Homo sapiens: one gene and its partners. Each later gene encodes a partner of the first gene's protein in a complex. Each region holds a gene or a part of one and is shown in the gene's direction. Other genes may lie near its edges. The genes, in order: FDX2, NFS1 and NDUFAB1.

Region 1 (3,746 bases):
GCCCCGGGCCTAATGGTCACAGCCACCTGCTGAAGGTACGGGCAGGGGGTGGGGACATGCAGGGCTGGGAAGCCCCGGCCCCCCAGCGGCCCCTGACCCGCCCCGCCCTGCCCTCTGTCTCCAGACCCCACTGGGCGGCCAGAAACGCAGCTTTGCCCACCTGCTGCCCTCGCCCGAGCCCAGCCCAGAAGGCAGCTATGTGGGCCAGCACTCCCAGGGCCTCGGCGGCCACTACGCGGACTCCTACCTGAAGCGGAAGAGGATTTTCTAAGTGGCTGGCACCAGAGATAACTCAAGGGCCTGCACCAAATCGCTTTTGGGTTTTCTGATGTTTTGTTTTGTGTTTTTTTTAAACCATTTTCTCTCTTTCGGTAATAGAAAAATCTCTGAAAGACTTTACTGACCAATCAGCCGGAGCCCCAGGAGCCCAAGGGGTGTGGGGGAGTCTGGAGGCCTCATTATGTCTCTGGCTTGCTCCCCACGCTGAAACCCTGCAGCCTTAAGAGAGAGGGGCCCCGGCCTGCTCTCCCTCCCTCCCCCCATCTCCTCCTCCGCTGTGCCCGTCTCTCCGGAGCCCTCCTGCCTCATTGCTCCTGTAATTTTGGCCTTTCGAGTGCCTTGGAGGTTTCCCTGACCTCCCGTGAAGATACAGAGACTGTCTCCTTTTTTTTTAACTTTGACAACTGACTTCTGTTTCCTTTTCTAAGTTTTATTTTTCAAACCACCCCGGACAGCCCCCAGCTCTGATTCCTTCAAGGCCCGGCCTGTCCGGGCCACCATTCCACACCTTGCGGTTTGAAACAGCTGTTTTTCCCACATTTGCTGCAGGCATGGCTGTCTCCTGCCCCTGCCTGCCCATCTGGCCTATACCCCAGCCGTGGGGCCCGGGGTCCCTGCCGCAGCCCCCTCCCCTTCTGATGCCTTAAAAGCTGGGCCCCAGGCCCTGCTGGCCAGAGCCACAGATGCCAAGCTCTGGGAGCTTGACTATGGACCAAACAGCTCTGGCCTAGGGATTGGGCCACCCTACCCAGGATCTCCACCCTGGGGACAGTAGAAGGGGAAAGCCTTCATCTTGGCGAACCGGCCCCACCACCCCCTCCTACCCGGGCCTCCGTGCAGAGATGGGCTTTCTCTGCCAGTCCCCTGCTGTCTGTCTGTGGGAGTCGGACATTGTGCCCATCTCCCGGAGCCTCTGCTGTCACTCGCTTGTTGAAGATGAATTCTTGAATTCTGCCTGCCCACCCCCGGCCAGATCCCTGGAGCTGGCCTCCTTCCAGCCCAGTGCCAGAAACCAGCACTCCATGAAGATAAACTCTGGGCCCGCCCACCAGCAGGACCTGTCGACCTGAGGTGACCCTGGGCCTTGCCCCCAGCCAACTGGGCCACCAGCTTCCCTCCCTTGACTCTGGGGGTCCACATCCACTCCAAGGGGACTATTCCCCCGACCCCACCCCAGTCTCCCCACACGGACCTTTGCTGAATTAAAGTTTGTAAGTAAATGGTTTTAAAGAAATCAGAGTTGGCTGGTTCTTGGGACAAACAGTGGGCTTGAGTGGGAGGTCTGGGATGGCCCCGCGGGTTTACCTGAGATGGATTCCGCCCTGCTCTTCCCACCTGGTCACCGCAGGCCCTAAGCAAACATCTGCGCTTATGTTCCATTGATTATGGGCTTTCCCTCGCCTCCCTGGCGCGGCGCATGCTCAGTCGGTGAGTCACGTGATGCATGTCATGGCCGCCTCCATGGCCCGGGGAGGCGTGAGTGCCAGGGTTCTACTGCAGGCTGCCAGGGGCACCTGGTGGAACAGACCTGGGGGCACTTCCGGGTCGGGGGAGGGGGTGGCGCTGGGGACAACCAGAAAGTTTCAAGCGACAGGTACCTGGGGCGCCCGGGGCGGGCAGCGTTAATCCGTCAGATGCCGGCGGGGCGGGGCTCGGCGCAGCCGCTCACCGAACCGTGTTTTCCAGGCTCGCGCCCGGCTGGAGAGGAGGACGCGGGCGGCCCGGAGCGGCCCGGGGACGTGTGAGTGCAGGGGGCCAAGTCCCCCATTCCTCATCCCACGGAATTCCTCTGGTCCCCATCTTGCCCTGTAGCTTCATCTCGAGGTCCCCCTTCTGCTTTGCCCTATTCAGTACCTGTGCGTCAAGCCTCAATTCCTACTTCCTAACCCTAGATTCTACCCGGGCCCTGAGCCCATCATCCAGTTCGGCATTCGCACTTCCATCTGTCCCCAGGGTGAACGTGGTGTTCGTAGACCGCTCAGGCCAGCGGATCCCAGTGAGTGGCAGAGTCGGGGACAATGTTCTTCACCTGGCCCAGCGCCACGGGGTGGACCTGGAAGGTAGGAACCGGGCAGAGGGAATTAAGGAGGTCCTTATACATTTGTCCAAAAAAAAAAAAAAAAAAACCCACAAATTAGGTGTGTCTCTTCACGTCTTTTTCCCACCAAATATGGACTAAAATCCAAACCCCTCACCATGGCCTCATCTGTTGCCAAGCTCTTATTTGTTAAGCATTTATTAGAGATCACTAGGACTCCTGGCTCCCAGGATTTTGTGTTCTCTTCCCCCTTCCTCCCTGTATTCTAGCCACATTGGCTTTCTTTTTGTTGTTGTTGTTTTGAGATGGAGTTTCACTCTTGTTGCCCAGGCTGGAGTGCAATGGCTTACTGCACCTCAGCTCACTGCAACCTCCACCTCCCGGGTTCAAGCGTTTCTCCTGCCCCAGCCTCCAGACTAGCTGGGATTACAGGCGCCCACCACCAAGCCCAGCTAATTTTTGTATTTTTAGTAGAGACGGGGTTTCACCACATTGGCCAGGCTGGTCTCAAACTCCTGAAAGGTGATCCACCCGCCTCAGCCTCCCAAAATGCTGGGATTACAGGCATGAGCCACCGCGCCCAGCCCACACTGGCTTTCTTGTGGTTCCTCAAACAACCAAGCTCATTCCTGCTTCGGGGCCTTTACATTTGCTGTTCCCTCTGTCTGAAGTGCTTTCCCAGCAAACATTCTGGCTCTTTCTCATCCTTCAGACCTCAGTGTAAATGTCATGTCCCTAACAATCCCATTCCCCTCAGCCCAGCTGAAGTACCCATGCCCTAGTTACTCTGTCTTATCAGTGTGATATGATATATAGCACTTCTCACTTTTTTTTTTTCAAGAGACGGAGCCTTGCTGTGTCGCCAATGCTGGAGTGCCATGATGCAATCATACCTCACTGCAGCCTTGAACTCCTGGGTTCAAGTGATCCTCCCACCTCAGCCTCCCAAGTAGCTGGGATTATAGGCACAAGCCACAATGCCAGGCTGTTTTGTTTCCTACTTTGTCATCTGTCCCCCAGTGAGATTGGTGACCCATGTCCTTATTCATGCTTATCTGTTGCCTGTCAAGATGTAACAGATGTTTGATAATTTGTTGAGAGAAAAATAATAATAGAAATTTCTTGTCCAGGCACAGTGGCTCATGCCTGTAATCCCAACACTTTGGGAGGCCGAGGCAGGCGACTCACTTGAGGACAGGAGTTTGAGACTAGTCTGGCCAACATGGCGAAACCCTGTCTCTACAAGAAACACAAAAATTAGCTGGGCGTGGTGGCACATGCATATAATCCCAGCTACTTGGGAGGCTGAGGCACAAGAATCACTTGAACTTGGGAGGCAGAGGTTGCAGTGAGCCAAGATGGCACCACTGCACTCCAGGCTGCATGACAGAGCGGGACTCTGTCTCAAACAAACAAAAAAAAAAGGCCA
Region 2 (3,746 bases), on another chromosome or scaffold:
GAAGATCCTTGGCAAAGCTGGATAATAGGCTGAGAGAAGAATATTCCTTTAAGAGAGGGACACTGACTACTCAAAGACTTTCTTTTATTAGTACATGGGCTGGGATTGATGGGAAGGGACAGATGTAGTTGGCAACCATGGTTAGCATCGGATGCCCATCCCAATGGCCATGAATGTGCCAAAGGTGCCGCCACTCTGCATCATGGTTTTCCCAATGCCGCCCATCAGCTCTCGACCCCGCATTCCGATCCTGAGGAGGAAACCAAGATGGAGCTATTTGGTAACAAAAATATCAGAAAGAGTATTAACTGCTCCTTTCCAATTTTTTGCTAACACTAGTCTAGCAACCCCTACATCTGATTTTCCACTTACTGGATATTATATCTTACTACCTGGGGTGGGTAATGAGAAGGAAAAAGATCCATCTGGGTCTCCAGGGTATTTTTCTGGTGGATGTCGTATTAACTGCCTTCAGTTTGTGGGAGGCAGCAGATGCAGTGTAAAATACATAGAGAAACCAGCTTTTTTGACTGGTGTTGCCTGCAGTTTAAGACCCAATAAAGACATCTGTCTTTTAGTTTCTTGGTGTTAATGATTTTGGAGTAAGGTGGGGGTTCAAGAGTCAGCTCTACAATTTACACATAGTGTCAAGTGTAAAATGGGCATCTCAACATTATTTACAGGATTTTGAAAACTACAGTATTTAGCACAGTGCTTAACATAGAGTAAGTGCTCTGTAAATGATAATTTACAATCTAGGGATATGGCAATAACAGCCTCTAAATGTGAAAATGACCTTTAGAGTGTAAAGTTTAACTGCTTTATCTCTGTATCCTGTATCCAGAATAGTAAAACCGCTGAACGAGTTTCTTTCCTTATGCGCAATTGGAAAAAAAAATAAAAGCAACAGTAGTAACTAGTTACTGAGCACTTAATATGTGCCAGATGCTGTGCAAAGTGTGCTGATCGAATTTTTACAACTCTATAAGTTAGATGCTACTGTCTTCATTCTACACTTAAGGAAACCCAGTCTCCAACTTGCCTAAAGTCACCGAACCAGTAAGAAAAGGGCCAGAAAGCATTTTGACTCTAAAGCTCAAATTCTTAAGCACTGACGCTTCCAACCTGACTTTACAGATTGAAGGTGGTTTGGAATGAGTCTGGCTCGCGAGGGGACAGAGAGGGAAGTCGAAAGAAGGAGGCTGTGTTCAGGCTCCAGGCCGAATGGGGCAGGGCCGGAAGGTCTGGTTGTCCTGCCCAGAGATCACCGCCCGCGCCCCTCACCTGAGACAGGAAAAGGTGCCGAAGAGCGCCCCGGCCGCCATGCCCACGGCGCAACCCATCACGAAGCCCATTTTGACACGGTCGAAGCAGCTTGGCTGGGACTGTCCGTAGGGACCCACGGCCACCGGCATCTGCGGGGGATAGGAAAGTGTGGGCCCAGGCGCTGGCCCAAGAGTCGGGCGGGGACGGAAGCGGTAGGCTGGGAAGTGGGCCCAAGGGCTCAGGGGAAGTAAGGGAAGGAAAATCAGTGGGTAGCCCGACTCCACCACCCTCTTCGCGTTCCGGCCCCGCGTCGCCCGGCGCCTACCTCACCTCGCTCGCGGGCTGGGTCGCTCAGCTCTACGTCTCTCACGGAAAACGACGGGGAGGGCGCTCGCGGCCCGATGAATCGCTTCCGGAGCGCCGGGCAGCACTTCCGGGAGCCTGGGGCCCAGGACTGCAGCGGCTTCGGAAGGTGGGCTCTGCCAGCGGGACCATGCTGCTCCGAGCCGCTTGGAGGCGGGCGGCAGTGGCGGTGACAGCGGCTCCAGGGCCGAAGCCCGCGGCGCCCACTCGGGGGCTGCGCCTGCGCGGTACGCTCGGGTCCCGCTCTCCGGGAGGCGCGGACCTGTCCCCTCCGCGCGGCGACGCAACTGAATATTCCGGAGCCTTCCTGTCCACCCTGCTGCCCAGACCCTCTGACCCTTCTCTCAAATGACACATCCCTCAAACTTTCTTAGGCGGGTCCCCGAACGGTTGACCCCGGCGCACCACCCCTCGCACCCTGCGCGACAGGCCCCCAGAGCCGTGGAGGCGCGTCCTTCAGACCGCTCCTGGCCAAGTTACAGATGCTGCTCCGGGCTCCCGTGCAGACCGTTACCTTCGGTCAGAAGGGACTGCACCTACTCTGGCTCCACGTTCCTTCTAAACGTCTTTGCCCTTTAGAGCCTTCCTTCCTACGATACCATTTGAATATCAACTCAACACCCCCTCCAGGAACCCTCTCTCCCTCTCCCTTACCTCCTTTTACAGCGTGTCAGGTATCTGGTGTTGTTTTCTTTCCATTGAGATTCGACCCTAGCATCCCTTACACTTATCTCACCTCCAGCCAGATTTTTCCTTCTGCCCTTTGGATGCCATGCGTTCATAGTTGCCTTCGGTCTTACTTGGCTACTCCGTTCCATTTTTTATCAGTTGGAGACCGTGCTCCTCAGTCTGCGGTTCCCGCAGATACAGCCGCTGCCCCGGAGGTGGGGCCAGTGCTGCGACCTCTCTATATGGATGTGCAAGCTACAACTCCTCTGGTAAGGATGAAGCTTTTCCCAAGGCTGCTTATAGGAAGTAAATGATGGGCGTGATCACGCAAAGAAATGGCTGAATCCCTGGAGAAGTGAGAGCCGTGAAGGTGTGCTGGAAAAAGCACTGAGCGAGGAGTCGGGAGGCTTAAATTCGAGGCCACTGGCATTGGCTTTACTACTCACTAGCAATTGACCTTGGTCAGATCACTTCAGCGCAGGCTCTATAGTATTAGTTAAAAGCATGGGCTCTGGAATGAGCAGAACGGCCACTTAGTAACTGTGTGAACTTGGACAAGTATTAAACGGGTTAAAAGACTAATGCAAGTTTTCACCAATGTGTGACCAGGGGTGTTTGCCTAGGCCCTGTCCTGTCCCAGCCCCTTATAGATCACATTACCTGGCAGGAATGGAAACACCAGCAGAAACAGATGTCGGAACAAGGCAGTGTTTGTAGACTACCTGAGGGGAGGCAGAACAATCCGAGTTGGGATGGGTTGTGAGTGGGAGTGTATTAGGTTGATATTTGGTGGGTAGTTTTGTGGGAACAAAAGAATGTTTGAGGCCTCCTCTAGGCAGTGCCTGAGGGGTTGAGAGTGTCTTAAGGCAGGGTGGCCAGGTCTGAGGGGTGGAGTGGGACCTGAATTGACGATGCGCTCAAGGAAAATGATCTGTTCTGTTGTGTTCAGGACCCCCGGGTGCTTGATGCCATGCTCCCTTACCTAATCAACTACTATGGGAACCCACACTCCCGGACACATGCTTATGGCTGGGAGAGTGAGGCAGCCATGGAACGTGCTCGTCAGGTTAGTACACAGGAGTCTAGGAGGTTCTAAGGTCAAAGAGGGGCAGTGGCCTGTGGGAGGCATTTCTTTCTTGGTAGGTGTGCATGGAGGTAGAAATGGTTTTGGATTCTTTCTGGAAGAGATTCAAAGAGCAGCCTTGGAGTTTGACTGCAGGCATTTGATTGGTTCCCATATTTCCTGGCTAAATGACTTGGGCAAGTTATCTAATTTCTTTGAGCCTTATTTTCCTCATTTAAAACAGAGATTGTGGTAGTTTCTACTCTGTAGGGTTACTGGGTGGATTAAATAAGACAATGCTGATAAAGTGTTTATTACCACAACATCTGTAAGTAAGAAGTACTATAAATAGTAAGAGCTCAATAGTTCTTTTTTTTTTTTTTTA
Region 3 (3,746 bases), on another chromosome or scaffold:
TGACAGGGTGAAACTCCATCTAACAACGAAAAAAAATTGAATCTGTTGTGTAGGTAAGGCAGTTTTTTTTTTGATTTGGGTTTTTGAAGAATCATTCCTGGTGATCCTGAGGTCTAAATTAGAGTGATAGGGTGATAGTAAACACTTTGGCCAGGCGCAGTGGCTCACGCCTGTAATCCCAGCACTTTGGGAGGCCAAGGTGGGTGGATCACGAGGTCAGGGGTTCGAGACCAGCCTGACTAACATGGTGAAACCCCGTCTCTACTAAAAATACAAAAATTAGCTGGGCGTGGTGGTGCACGCCTATAATCCCAGCTACTCGGGAGTCTGAGGGGTGAGAATTGCTTGAACCCGGGAGGCCGAGTTTGCAGTGAGCCGAGATCGTGCCATTGCACTCCAGCCTGGGTGACAGAGCAAGACTTTCTCAAAAAACCAAAAAACAGACAACATTAGAGTGAAATCCTTCATTAGCTATGTATATATTGTTCACTTCAAAACAGAGTAAGATAAAGCAAACCATGTACATACTAGCATAGGTTACATATAAAATGTCAGTTATAGCCTCTGTATGTTAAAAAAAATTCGATGTAGTCACAAGGACAGAAAACCAAACACTGTGTGTTCTCGCTCATAGGTGGGAACTGAACAATGAGGTCACTTGGACAGAGGGTGGGGAGCATCATTTACCAGGGCCTGTCAAGGGGTAGGGGGTTTGGGGAGGGACAGCATTAGGAGAAATACCTAATGTAAATGATGAGTTGATGGGTGCAGCAAACCAACATGGCACATGTATACCTATGTAACAAACCTGCACGTTGTGCACATGTACCCTAAAACTTAAAGTATAATAAATTCAATATAGTGATTAAGTGGCATTGTACCACCCTGTTATCTTGGGAAGCAGATGCTTTCATGGACTAAATTTTGTGTTTGGTGCTCCTTTCTTGCAGCTTTCAGTAAATTCTCATTTTATGAAAGACCTGGGCTTAGACAGTTTGGACCAAGTGGAGATTATCATGGCCATGGAAGACGAATTTGGTAAGGCTCAGTCTTCTATCTACACACTGCGATTTTTGATTAAGGTGGATTAAACTGAAAGAAGTGGTGGGCGTCTGAATTGGAATTAGAATTAAATATTAATAGAAACAGTAGCATCCACTGCCCTTCACACACACCTTCCTGCCCACTTACCATCAGGTGAAGTAAGCTTTAGGGATGGTACATTTATTCAGAGAGCACCTTGCACAAGCCCAGCAGAGTGCCCAGTGTGGTGCCAAGAGCCGAATGACCAGAGATGGTTCCAGGGGACTGATTCTTCAGACAGGGTTCTAAGACAAAGGGCAAAAGCCTCCCCGGAACACATGCTGATGACATGTCAGCCCCTCCTGAGCTCGGGTAACGCGAACCAGGTAGAAGTAATGTGTGCCAGGACAAGAGACGCACCCAGAGCCTCTGGCCTTGGTCTCCTATCCTGGCTCACAAGCACACTCCAAGTTTGGGACTGTGTGTTGGGCAGGTGAGACCTTTATAAGGTTCCATGGCTGTTTCTGCGTGAGTTGGCTGAATAGGAAATCAAAGGACTTCTGTGCTGTTCTGCAGAGCAGGGCCTAGTTAAAATTCCTCACAGATGATGCTGACTAGGATGGAATCCCTTTGCCTAGTGCTTAAGAGTACCAGGTCTGGAATTGAGCTTAGTCAGGTATGAGCCTGGACAAGTAACTGTATCTCTCAAAGCCTGTTTCCTCAGCTGTAAAGTGGGGGTGATAATAGTAGGAACCCCAGGATTGGAATTGCTGTGAGAATTAGAGATGATGTGTAAAATGCTCAGCACAGTGTTTGGGCCAAAGTAAGCTAACTACCAAAACCCAGCCATTTATAAAAACCCAACCATCATAAAAAAAAAAATGCATGGGTGACGTGTGTTACAGCACACGAACCTTGAGAACGTGCCGAGTGAAAGAAGCCAGACACAGAAGATGACACGTTATATACCATTTACATGAAATGTCAAGAAGAGGCAAATCCAGAGATAGAAAGTACACGGGTGGTTGCCAGAGCTAGGGAGGATGGGGAGTGACTGCTGACGGGCACTGGGTTTCTTTTTTTTTTTTTTTTTTTAATTGATCATTCTTGGGTGTTTCTCGCAGAGGGGGATTTGGCAGGGTCATAGGACAATAGTGGAGGGAAGGTCAGCAGGTAAACAAGTGAACAAAGGTCTCTGGTTTTCCTAGGCAGAGGACCCTGGGGCCTTCCGCAGTGTTTGTGTCCCTGGGTACTTGAGATTAGGGAGTGGTGATGACTCTTAACAAGCATGCTGCCTTCAAGTATCTGTTTAACAAAGCACATCTTGCACCACCCTTAATCCATTTAACCCTGAGTGGACACAGCACATGTTTCAGAGAGCACCGGGTTGGGGGTAAGGTCATAGATCAACAGCATCCCAAGGCAGAAGAATTTTTCTTAGTACAGAACAAAATGGAGTCTCCTATGTCTACTTCTTTCTACACAGACACAGCAACAATCTGATTTCTCTATCTTTTCCCCACATTTCCCCCTTTTCTATTCGAAACAACCGCCATCGTCATCATGGCCCGTTCTCAATGAGCTGTTGGGTACACCTCCCTGACGGGGCGGCTGCCGGGCGGAGACGCTCCTCACTTCCCAGACGGGGCGGCTGCCGGGCAGAGGGGCTCCTCACTTCTCAGACGGGGCGGCTGCCGGGCGGAGGGGCTCCTCACTTCTCAGACGGGGCGGCTGCCGGGCGGAGGGGCTCCTCACTTCTCAGAGGGGGCAGCCGGGCAGAGACGCTCCTCACCTCCCAGATGGGGTCGCGGCCGGGCAGAGGCGCTCCTCACATCCCAGACGGGGCAGTGGGGCAGAGGCGCTCCCCACATCTCAGACGATGGGTGGCCGGGCAGAGACGCTCCTCACTTCCTAGACGGGATGGTGGCCGGGAAGAGGCGCTCCTCACTTCCCAGACTGGGCAGCCGGGCAGAGGCGCTCCCCACATCTCAGACGATGGGTGGCCGGGCAGAGACGCTCCTCACTTCCTAGACAGGATGGCGGCCGGGAAGGGGCGCTCCTCACTTCCCAGACTGGGCAGCCGGGCAGAGGGGCTCCTCACATCCCAGACGATGGGCGGCCAGGCAGAGGCTGCAATCTCGGCACTTTGGGAGGCCAAGGCAGGCAGCTGGGAGGTGGAGGTTGTAGCTAGCCGAGATCACGCCACTGCACTCCAGCCTGGGCAACATTGTGCACTGAGTGAACGAGACTCCATCTGCAATCCCGGCACCTCGGGAGGCCGAGGCTGGCAGATCACTCGCGGTTAGGAGCTGGAGACCAGCCCAGCCAACACAGCGAAACCCTGTCTCCACCAAAAAAATACGAAAACCAGTCAGGCGTGGCGGCGCGTGCCTGCAATCGCAGGCACTGGGCAGGCCGAGGCAGGAGAATCAGGCAGGGAGGTTGCAGTGAGCAGAGATGGCGGCAGTACAGTCCAGCTTCGGCTCGGCATCAGAGGGAGACCATGGAAAGAGAGGGAGAGGGAGAGGGAGAGGGAGACCGTGGGAAGAGGGAGAGGGAGAGGGAGACCTTGGGGAGAGGGAGAGGGAGAGGGAGACCGTGGGAAGAGGGAGAGGGAGAGGGAGACCGTGGGGAGAGGGAGAGGGAGCTGGGTTTCTTTTACACAATGGTGATGGTTGCACAATGTGAATATACTAAAAACTACCAAATTATATGGTATATAC

Evidence for each region.
Region 2: the proteins of FDX2 (region 1) and NFS1 are in contact, whole or in part, in a cryo-EM structure (PDB 8RMC), measured with the Homo sapiens proteins. Residues at the interface, in NP_001384335.1 of Homo sapiens: Ala104, Cys105, Glu106, Ala110, Cys111, Pro141, Leu142, Ile169, Thr170, Arg171, Asn172, Phe173, Tyr174, Val175, Asp176, His178, Lys181; in NP_066923.3 of Homo sapiens: Gln153, Lys157, Leu160, Asp161, Arg164, Ala168, Tyr175, Ala384, Ser385, Leu386, Glu387, Pro388, Tyr390, Arg393, Gln456, His457.
Region 3: FDX2 (region 1) and NDUFAB1 share a complex: the UniProt entries of both Homo sapiens proteins name them as parts of the mitochondrial core iron-sulfur cluster (ISC) complex.

Annotation. Positions count from the first base shown.
Region 1 is NC_000019.10:10,313,979-10,317,724, reverse strand, and holds the start of FDX2 (ferredoxin-2, mitochondrial), read left to right. Parts: upstream 1-1,709; 5' UTR 1,710-1,728; coding exon 1,729-1,873; intron 1,874-1,965; coding exon 1,966-2,020; intron 2,021-2,171; exon of another isoform or gene 2,172-2,232; coding exon 2,233-2,339; intron 2,340-3,746. Other genes in the region: RAVER1 (ribonucleoprotein PTB-binding 1), read left to right, coding at 1-35, 125-271. UniProt on the Homo sapiens protein: Electron donor, of the core iron-sulfur cluster (ISC) assembly complex, that acts to reduce the persulfide into sulfide during [2Fe-2S] clusters assembly on the scaffolding protein ISCU.
Region 2 is NC_000020.11:35,697,302-35,701,047, reverse strand, and holds the start of NFS1 (cysteine desulfurase isoform a precursor), read left to right. Parts: upstream 1-1,695; 5' UTR 1,696-1,759; coding exon 1,760-1,856; intron 1,857-2,457; coding exon 2,458-2,567; intron 2,568-3,247; coding exon 3,248-3,364; intron 3,365-3,746. Other genes in the region: ROMO1 (reactive oxygen species modulator 1), read right to left, coding at 142-250, 1,285-1,415.
Region 3 is NC_000016.10:23,582,628-23,586,373, reverse strand, and holds part of NDUFAB1 (acyl carrier protein, mitochondrial precursor), read left to right. Parts: intron 1-950; coding exon 951-1,038; intron 1,039-3,746. UniProt on the Homo sapiens protein: Carrier of the growing fatty acid chain in fatty acid biosynthesis.